Linked DNA regions of Homo sapiens: region 1 is linked to region 2. The links come from fine-mapping of genetic effects on gene expression. A gene starts in region 2. The other region holds a variant in brackets. All regions are shown on one strand. Distances are from middle to middle.

The links. PIP is the estimated chance that this variant, and not a neighbour inherited with it, causes the effect.
Region 1: its variant is the best candidate, but not a certain one, in a credible set for the expression of CSK in CD4 T cells (CEDAR, PIP 0.58).

What each region holds. Positions count from the first base shown.
Region 1 is chr15:74,913,214-74,918,425 of GRCh38, forward strand. No RefSeq gene overlaps it. Among named protein-coding and RNA genes, the nearest start is that of FAM219B, 9.0 kb to the left of the region's middle. The variant A/G (reference allele first, on the strand shown) is at 2,094.
Region 2 is chr15:74,779,779-74,785,259 of GRCh38, forward strand. CSK (C-terminal Src kinase) reads left to right here and starts at 2,302. Exons shown (of 13, transcript NM_004383.3): 1 at 2,302-2,942. RefSeq lists enhancers at 1,752-1,871, 1,892-1,961, 3,004-3,579, 4,462-4,591, 4,602-4,661 and silencers at 2,182-2,401, 2,512-2,771.

The DNA.
Region 1 (5,212 bases), 130 kb after region 2:
AGCCCAGCACAGAGTCATCTCACTTGGCGTTCAACCAAACTTCTCCAATGCAGCAAAATGGCAAACTAAACAATGTTACTGCAAAATGTGACTATAGACTAATAGGCTCTGCTGCTAAGGACAAGCTCTCTGGCATCCAGTTAAACAAACAGCCAGGAAAAACTGAAGTGATAGTTAGCAAAACTTAGGAGAGAATGACTAGGCTTAAGCCATTTTCCCAAGCACAACCAAAAAAATGATTATAACAAATAGAACATAATCTGCTAACCTTTCATTCTTGTTATATCCTTGTGAGGTGGCTCCCATTTTCAGATAAGGAAACAAAAGGACAGAAGTGTAGGCAACATATACACAGTCATATGACTGTTATACAGTAGACTGGGATTTATACCCAAGTCTGAATCCAAACCCCATTTTCTCATCTTACTGCTACATTATGCTGCCTTCCATCAGCTGGTAGGTGTATGTAATAAAAAGACATGAGGACAAACTGACATCATGTCCCTCCTGAGGGGATACAATTGGAATTTCACATAGTATTTTTGCCAAAAATGTTTAGCTGGATTTGAATAATTAGGAAACAGACACAGGCAGATTACAGGACATTCTACAACTGGCCTGGACTCTTCAGAAATATGAACTGTATGTATTTGATGCTAAACTTATTATTTTTTTTTTTTTATTTTGAGACGGAGTTTCACTCTTGTTGCCCAGGCTGGAGTGCAATGGCCAATCTTGGCTCACTGCAACCTCCATCTTCCAGGTTCAAGCGATTCTCCTGCCTCAGCCTCCTGAATAGCTGGGATTACAGGCATGAGCCACTACGCCCAGCTAATTTCTGTAGTTTTAATAGAGACAGGGTGTCTCAGTGTTGGTCAGCCTGGTCTCGAACTTCTGACCTCAGGTGATCCACCCGCCTCGGCCTCCCAAAGTGCCAGGGTTATAGGCGTGACCCACTGCGCCTAGCCTGATGCTAAACTTCTTGAAATAGAACAGAATTGTGTTTATGTAGGAGGCAAAAGTCCTTTTTCTCAGATTTTTGCTGAAGTATTCAGGGGTGAAGTGACGTGTGTAGATATATAACATATAAACAAATGTGACAAACTATTAATTGCTTTGAAATTTATTTTCTTTTTTTTTTTTTTTTTTGAGACGGAGTCTGGCTCTGTCGCCCAGGCTGGAGTGCAGTGGTGCCATCTTGGCTCACTGCAAGCTCCGCCTCCCGGGTTCATGCCATTCTCCTGCCTCAGCCTCCCGAGTAGCTGGGACTACCGGTGCCCGCCACCTCGCCTGGCTAATTTTTTGTATTTTTAGTAGAGATGGGGTTTCACCGTGTTAGCCAGGATGGTCTTGATCTCCTGACTTCGTGATCCACCCACCTCGGCTTCCCAAAGTGCTGGGATTACAGGCGTGAGCCACCGCACCCGGCCTGCTTTGAAACTTAATTAAAACAAACTGTAGGAAAGAAAAAGGCTAGAGACCCCATCCTGTTAGGGTAGAAGCCCTGTCCATCCAAGTCAAGCTGTGGAAGGATCCTCATATTTACCATCTACTTCTTTTGTTTGTTTGAGACAGAGTCTTGATCTGTCGCCAGGCTGGAATGCAGTGGCACGATCTCGGCTCTCTGCAACCTACGCCTCCCAGGTTCAAACAGTTCTCCTGCCTCAGCCTCCTGAGTGGCTGGGACTACAGACGTGCACCACCATGCCCAGCTAATTTTTGTAGAGACGGGGTTTCACCATGTTGGGAAGGCTGGTCTTGAACTCCTAACCTCATGATCCGTCCGCTTCAGCCTCCCAAAGTGCTGGGATTAGAGGCGTGAGCCACTGCACCCAACCCATCTACTTCTTTAGGTAGAGCTAGGATCCATCAAGCTAAAAGATGTACCTACTTTTTTTTTTTTTTGAGATGGAGTTTCATTCTTGTTACCCAGGCTGGAGTGCAATGGCATGATCTCGGCTCACCGCAACCTCCGCCTCCCAGGTTCAAGCGATTCTTCTGCCTTAGCCTCCTGCTGGGATTACAGGCGCTCGCCACCATGCCCAGTAAATTTTTTGTATTTTTAGTAGAGATAGCGTTTCACTGTGTTGGCC[A/G]GCTGGTCTCAAACTTCTGACCTCAGGTGATCCACTCACCTCAGCCTCCCCAAGTGCTGGGATTACAGGCGTGAGCCACCGCGCCTGGCCAAGATGTACCTACTTTTTCCAGCACAACAAAGAAGTTGATTCAATTTGCCTAATGGGTGTGTGTGTGAAGAAAGTTTGATGAGACAAATTCACCAGTAGATTGAATTTATCTAGTCACTTTTGCCTTCTAGTAACATGCCTTGTGATTTTTGTAAGTTTGCTTCTTGTGAAAATTATTTCTATTATTTTAGAGTAAAGGTGGGCAAACTTTCTGTAAACAGGCAAATAGTACTCTCTGGTCCAACTACTCACTATGTCATTTTAATGCAAAAGCAGCTATAGATAATGCACAGTGTGAATGTACCTAATGCCACTGTACTGTAAACTCAAAAATGGTCAAGATGAGGCCAGGTGCAGTGGCTCATGCCTGTAATCCCAGCACTTCGGGAGGCCCAGGTGGGCGGATCACGAGGTCAGGAGATTGAGACCATCCTGGCTAACACGGTGAAACCCCGTCTCTACTAATATAAAAAATTAGCCGGGCGTGGTGGCTGATGCCTGTGGTCCCAGCTACTCGGGAGGCTGAGGCAGGAGAATGGCGTGAACCTGGGAGGCAGAGGTTGCAGTAAACCGAGATGGCGCCACTGCACTCCAGCCTGGGCGACAGAGCGAGACTCCATCTCAAAAAAAAAAAAAAAAAAAAAAAAGGTCAAGATGGTAAATTTTATGTATGATCTTACCATAATTTACTAAAAGGCAAAAAAATAAGCCACAGATAATATGTAAATGAATGAGGGCGTGTGACTGTGTTCCAATAAAACCTTATTTATGGACACCATATTTGAATTTATTATTTTTTGAGACAGAGTCTTGCTCTGTCGCCCAGGCTGGAGTGCAGTGGCATGATCTCGGCTCACTGCAACCTCCGCCTCCCAGGTTCATGCCATTCTCCTGCCTCAGCCTCCGGAGTAGTGGGGACCACAGGTGCCCGCCACCACGCCCGGCTAATTTTTTGTATTTTTAGTAGAGACGGGGTTTCACCATGTTAGCCAGGATGGTCTTGATCTCCTACCTTGTGATCCACCCACCTTGGCCTCCCAAAGTGCTGGGATTACAGGTGTGAGCCACCATGCCCGGCCCATATTCTGAATTTCATACAGTTTTTATATATTATGAAAAATTTTTTTTTTTTTGAGTCAGAGTCTCGCTCTGTCGCCCAGCCTGGAGTACAGCAGCATGATCTCGGCTCACTGCAACCTCCACATCTTGGGTTCAAACGATTCTTCTGCCTCAGCTTCCCGTGTAGCTGGGACTATAGGTGCGTGCCACCATGCCCAGCTAATTTTTATATTTTTAGTAGAGACATGGTTTCACCATATTGGCCAGGCTGGTCTCGAACTCCTGACCTTGTAATCCACCCGCCTCAGCCTCCCAAAGTGCTGGGATTACAGGTGTGAGCCACCGCGCCTGGCCGAAATATTTTTCATTGATTTTTCAACCATTTAAAAACATACCAGGCCGGGCACGGTGGCTCACGCCTATAATCCCAGCACTTTGGGAGGCCGAGGCAGGTGGATCGTTTGAGTCCAGGAGTTTGAGACCATCCTGGCTAACACGGTGAAACCCCGTCTCTACTAAAAATACAAAAAATAAGCCAGGCGTGGTGGCGGGCACCTGTAGTCCCAGCTACTCGGGAGGCTGAGGCAGGAGAATGGCATGAACCTGGGAGGCAGAGCTTGCAGTGAGCCGAGATCATGCCACTGTACTCTAGCCTGGGCGACAGAGCAAAACTCTGTCTCAAAAGAAAAACAAAACACAAAAAACCCATACCAGCCTGGGCAACGTGGTCTACAAAAAAATACAAAAATTAGCTGGGTGTGGTAGCATGCATCTGTAGTACCAGCTCCTCAGAGGCTGAGATAGGAGGATTGCTTGAGCCCAGGAGGCAGAGGTTGCAGTGAGCTGATACCACACCACTGTACTCCAGCCTGGGTGACAGAGCAAGACCCTGTCTCGAAAAAAAAAAAAAAAAGTAAAAATTCCTAGAGCACCCCAGGTGCAGTAGCTCATGCTTGTAATCCCAGCACTTTGGAGGGTGAGGTGGGCGGATCACTTCAGGCTAGGAGTTCAAGACCAGTCCAGCCAACATGGTGAAACCCCATCTCTGCTAAAGCTACAATAAATTAGCCAGGCGTGGTGGCACATGCCTGTGATCCCAGCTACTCAGGAGGCTAAGGAAGGAGAATCGCTTGAACCTGGGAGGCAGAGGTTGCAGTGAGCCGAGATTGTGCCACTGGACTCCAGCCTGGGCAACAGAGCAAGACTCCGTCTTAGAAAAACAAACAAACAAACAAAAAACTTACCAGAGTACCCGTTTCCTTCTAAGGGTATACATGAGTGAATCAGATAAAATAAAATGTTGAAATCTCAACCTTACCTAAGATACAAAGGAGGCCAGCTGTGGTGGCTCACGCCTGTAATCCTAGCACTCTGGGAAGCCAAGACAGGCAGAGAGCTTGAACTCAGGAATTTGACACCAGCCTGGGCAACATGAGACCAAAACCACAAAAATTAGCCATGTGTGGAGGTGCACGCCTGTGGTCCCAGCTACTCTGGAGGCTGAGACGGAAGGATTGTTGGAGCCCGGGAAGTCGAGGCTACAGTGAGCCATGATCACATCACTGCACTCCAGCCTGTGTCAGAGCAAGACAGTCTCAAAACAAAACAAAAACACATTAAAAAAAAAAAAAAAAGCAAAGGCAACAAGAATCACTTTCCATCTACTAGTTCTATCCAGCTACAAATAAATCTTCTGCTTGTAAAAGAAAAGCCAATGCCTCAACCCTCACCATCTTTCAAATCACTCTCATTGCCTAAGATCACTCCTTCGCCTCCTGCAGTTTGGCCTCAACCGCCCACAAAAACATGGCCAAGAAATTAAAATTTCTTGAGCATCTGGCTGGGCGCGGTGGCTCACGCCTGTAATCCCAACACTTTGGGAGGCTGAGGCAGGCAGATCACCTGAGAGGTCAGGAGTTCGAGACCAGCCTGGCCAACATGGTGAAACCCCATCTCTACTAAAATTACAA
Region 2 (5,481 bases):
CCAGGATGGTCTCGATCTCCTGACCTTGTGATCTGCCTGCTTCGGCCTCCCAAAGTGCTGGGATTATAGGTGTGAGCCACGGCGCCCAGCCCAATAATTCCACCAGAGGACAGGTCTGTGGGAGTGGGGCCCTTTATCGATTTGTTTATGGTTTTATCCCCAGTGCCTGGAGTACAGGAAGATTAAAAAATTTATTTCACTTTGCTGAGAAGAGGTGGAGCCAGGATTCAAATGCTGGTCTATTTGACTCCAAAGTTCACAGCTGGGCCACAGCACACCCAGGGGAAAAAGTCAAGTGCATTTGGGGATAAAGAAAGGTTGGTGACAAAACTGGAACAGGGATTAGAGTATTTTCCCCAAATCCCCAGTCTTTTCTTTCCCATTCTGCTAGCTGATTCAGCCAGGGGAGGGGAGATGTCAATTTCTCCCTCCCAGAAGGCTTTGCAGAGCTGCTGAAGTGCTTTCTTGTAGGCTGAGAGGCGGCCCCCCATCCGGCCCCATATTATCATTCCATCTTGACCTCAGAGGAAAGAAAGGGAAACCAGCTCTGCTGAGCACCCTTTCCACTCCCTCACCCCCAGGCCGTTATCTTGCTGAATCTGCACTATCTATCATGAGAGAAGTATATTTTGAGCCTGATCTTACAAAAGAGGAAACAGCTCAGAGACCTTAGGTAACTAGCCCTAAGTCACACAGCTAGTAAGTGGACGGGTTGAAATTTAACTTGGAGACTTGAACCCCAAATTCATCTTTTTTCTGTTACACCACACCTATCTCTGAAACTTACTGGCTGTCTCCTCAAAGGACATCCCTCTCCAAAGGGCTGGCTCCAGCTGGGAAACCGGCCTAAGGGTGCCCTGGGTCAGAGGGCCGACCTGTGGTTTTGGGGGCAACTCCTCCTGGCATCCGAGGCTCTTTAAAACAATCTGCAGCCACACTGTCTCCCAGCTCCGTCTCCCACAGGGCTGTTTGCCCTCTTCTCGCTCCCTCGGGCCTCTTCATGCTTATTTTGTGTTCCAAGACTTTGTCAGCATGCCCCACTTCCTCCCCCCCAACCCCAAGAGTGCCTCTTCCCTCTGTCCACCCAAGCCTGACCCTTGCTTCAGGGTCTAGTCCCTAGAAAGTCCCCCACCTTTACCTCCTCCCTACGCTGGAGTCTCTGGTCTCGCCCTCATCACTGTATCCCCATTCTGTTCCCCGGTCTCACCCTCATCACTGCATCCCCATTCTGTTCCCCCGCCACCCTGCACTCTCCCACCCCTGTCATGCCTGAGCACGCTGTCCTCTCCTGTGGCTCAGAGCAGGTCATCTCCCTGCTTTTCGTTAACAGTGATGTAACAGCCCTTGCTTAACGGAGGGCTCCTCACGTGCCAGCTACTGCATACTAAGCACTTTAAACGTATTAACTCATTTCCTCCCCTCCCCACAAAAACTTAAGAAGTCGGTGCCATTATATATCACCTATTTTACCAAATGGGGAAACTAAAGCACAGAGAGGTTAAGTAACTTGCCCAAGGTCACAGAGCTGCTGACAACTTCTTTATTGCCTCCAGGCTGAACATAAACTCCAAGAAAGTCCCATGAGGCTCTTTGGATCTCTTTTGCCCCTGTTGTTTGCAGGAACCCATCTCCCACCACTCTCCCCCACCCACACTGCAAGCGGCAGCCGCCTGAGCTATATTTAGATCCCAGAAGCCACCAAGCTCCCTCCGCACTCCCCGCCCTTGTGCATGCTGTTCCCTCTGCCTGGTCCCGGCTCTGTGAGGTGTGAGGTCTCCCCGTTAGCCCTAGTTTTCTTTCTGCCTCCTGGGAACCGTGTCCACCACCTCTCCACTTTGATCAATTATTTCCTTGCCGTTGTCTGTCGGCCTGTCAGCCTACCCCCACCCGACCGAGAACGCCTTGACGGTAGTGAAATGGTCTTGCCAATAGACTCCAGAGCAGGCTCCGCCACGATGTCAGCGCCAGGAAATGTTGGTGAATGAATGAATGAAGGCTTTCTGCTGCGAATCAGGCCCACTCTCCACAAACAGACCTGAGGAGAGGGGCCCAGGCCCGGCCCCCAGCGCTTCTGCAGCGGGAAAGCTGCGTCCAGAGAAGGCTGGGAGGTTGCTCCCAGGCCGGCTGAGGAGAGACCCTCGGAGCCTTCAACGCAGCCAGGCGGCAAGTGGGGGCAGGGCGTGGGCGCGGACACACCCCCCGCAGTGCCCCCGGCGCCCGGCAGGGGGCGCCGCCCCGCCGGCCCACGCCCCGCCGCGCGCCGGGCAGGCCCCCTCGCGCAGGCGCGCTGCCGCGGGCGGAGGATCCGGGCCGCGCTTCCTCTCGCCAGGCCTGCGAGCTTCCTCCCAGCGGAGCCCTGGGCGAGCCGAGGTTGGCCGCCGCCGCCGCCGAGCCCGCTGCCGCCCTCCCGCTCCTGCCCCACCCGCGCCTTGCCCGGGGGCTTCTGCCGGGGTGGGGTCCGAGCCGGGCGACCGCCCGGCTGCGCCGCCGTCGGGGCCGTAACCCGGCCCGCCGTCCCTCCCGCCCCAGCCAGCCTCTGGCCGCCGGAGCCCGCGGGGCGTGGAGCGCGAGGAGCCCCGCGGCCCCGATCGAGCGTCCGGGGCGGCCCCCGGCAGCCAGCGCGACGTTCCAAAATCGAACCTCAGTGGCGGCGCTCGGAAGCGGAACTCTGCCGGGGCCGCGCCGGCTACATTGTTTCCTCCCCCCGACTCCCTCCCGCCCCCTTCCCCCGCCTTTCTTCCCTCCGCGACCCGGGCCGTGCGTCCGTCCCCCTGCCTCTGCCTGGCGGTCCCTCCTCCCCTCTCCTTGCACCCATACCTCTTTGTACCGCACCCCCTGGGGACCCCTGCGCCCCTCCCCTCCCCCCTGACCGCATGGACCGTCCCGCAGGCCGCTGATGCCGCCCGCGGCGAGGTGGCCCGGACCGCAGTGCCCCAAGAGAGGTGAGTGCCTGGCCGTCCCGGAGTGTCCCCTGGAGGGAAGAGGGTGGAGGTCGCGCGTCTAGTCTCTGTTGCTGCCACTGTCGCGTCCACTCCCATTCCCCTCTTCTCCCACTTCTCCCTTCTCTCCTTTACTCCCTTGCACGGGTTCGAATTCTCCCAGGAGCCACTGTCAGAACCCAAATTGGAAGGGAGTGCATGAGGGAGGTACTGCCCTGCAGCTCCACGGACTCGTCTTCTCGGGTCATCCCGAGTCCCCCCCTCTGTGGAGCTCAGAGTAGGAGGTGGCTGGAGTCTGGAGGAAGAGGATCCGTATGGGCCAGGTCCCTAGAGAGAGTGCTGGACTCCCCTGCCCTTCCCTGTACAGGGCCTCCCCGCAGGTGCCCTGGCTTGCTTGGTTCTGACCCCTCCCTCATTACCCCACCATGACCCTGCGGGCTGCAAGCAAGCCCAGGGCCCAGCCACCTCGGGTGAGCAGTTAGAAGCCCAGGTCCTAGGACTGAGCCTGTCACCCTTGGCCTCTCAGAAGACCAGGCCTAAGCCAAGGGATCTTTGGGTGGGAAACTGGGCAGGCCTTCTGCCCGGGGGGAGGTAACGGAGCATTAGCACCATGCCCCCACCTTCTGGCACCCTGGGCAGCCCATTCTCCTAGGCTCTTTGTGGCCCAGACCAGGTGTCAGGAAGGGGTGTGTCCAGCCAGCAGATTTTTTGGAGCTTAACTACCAGTTCACTTCCCCGCCCATTTTGTACACCCGGGAACCGAGGCTCAAAGGGAGAAGTTGCTACCCCAGGCCTCTAGTGGAGTTAGGCTGGCTGTCCTTTCATCCCCAGCTATACAGGGCTGGATGGCTGTGGGTGGAAGGAAACCAGGCAGGCACCTTCACCCACTGGGGACACAGGCCCCCAGCCCGGCCCCAGAGGGACCTTGTTGGTTGAGCACGTGCTTCCCTGCAGAGGGCTGGAGGGAGTGAAAGGGCTTCCGGCTCCAGCTGTGGCTGGGTCAGCTAGCAGGAGATGTGGGGAATGTGTGGTGTATGGCCATCTGTGTGGTGTGGCAGGAAGGTCCGGTCCTGGCCCCGGCTCTGAGTTGAAACAACCTGGTGGTCAGTCCTGACCCAGCACTCGCCACACCTATGGCCCAGCTGGCACAGGAGCAGCCAAGTTCAGGATATAAATGGGGTCACATGGGAACCGTGGAAGCTCTGTCTCCACTGGCAGCAGGCTACAGACTGGGGACATGGGAGCATTGTGAGAGTGGGGACACCCAGGGGGCCTGTTTCAAGCTCCTAGTACCCTGGCGGTTCCAGTGTCTTTCTTGGTTGTGGCCACAGCAGGAACAGGGCAAGGACAGCAGGGGTGAGGTTGAGGCCTGGCAGGATCCTCTGGCCCAGGAGAGCAGGCATTGCCCTGGTGGGTGCTGAGCAGTGTCTGGGCTCCCTTGGAGCTGCTGGCAGTTTTGTCCTGCTGGGTCCCTGCTCACGATTTAGGGTTTTTTTGTTTTTTCACTTTTTTTTCTGGCTGTCCTGACATGCACAGTGGAGGGGACCCAGATGTCCTGGGCCTGTGAGACTCCCCTCACATGGCCCCACACCCAGCCCTAACTTCCTTTCCAGCCTGAGGGACTGGGGCTGGAGCCTGACATGGTTAGCTCCCTCCCACCCCAGTCAGCCTTTTTAATTTTTATTTTATTTTATTTTATTTTTTTACCAACTGTGAGCTGTGAAGGTGTGATCCAGGGTCCCAGGGCCTTTGAAGAAAGGAGTCTGGCTTCTGGCTGGCACGTGTGCAGGGATGTGCTTTTCATTGGTGAGCTTGGTGCCCTCCACCCTCTCAGAAGCAGCTGCTCTTCTCTCTGCATTGGGTCAGGGGCAAGGAAAAAGCAGAAAATGTTCCCATTCACCACCGCAGGGGGGCCAGACCCCAAAAGGCTGAGCCACACAGAGTGGCCCTCGGCAAGGGTTGGAAATTTCGGGGACAGAATGCAGCTTCCTCCAAACAAGTATAGGTAGGGGTTGAGACCCAGGATCCACAGTGTGACATGGCTGCCCCCCAAAGGGGGCAGACCCACCTGGGTGCGGTTCTGGGCTCCATCTTTTGAAGGATTTTAAAACCTTGACAGGTCATCTTCAAAGAGCCAGGGATGTTGACTGAGTCTGGGAAAGAGAAAGTAGGGACAGATTCTCATATGTCTGAGGGACTGTCCCAAATGAGAAAGGCATCCCATGGCAGAAATTGTCCCAGACACGTGGGCCAGAGCTAGGGAGCAGGTGGGTCCCAGGGAAGTGAATCTGAGCTCATTATAGGGAAACCATGAATGTACTCATTTTCTTGATTTAGAAAATAACAAAACAGCGCTACAGGAAATTTAGAAAATGAAACAAAAATCACCCACTATTTCTTCAGCAGGCAGTGACTGTGTTAGCATTTTGGAGTTCACTGCCAGTCTTTTCCCCATCCTTTTCCTTCATTGTCGTTGTCACTGGAGTGTGTGTGCCGTGACACCTTTTTTCATTTAATACTGCGTCTGTGGGCATTTTCTCAT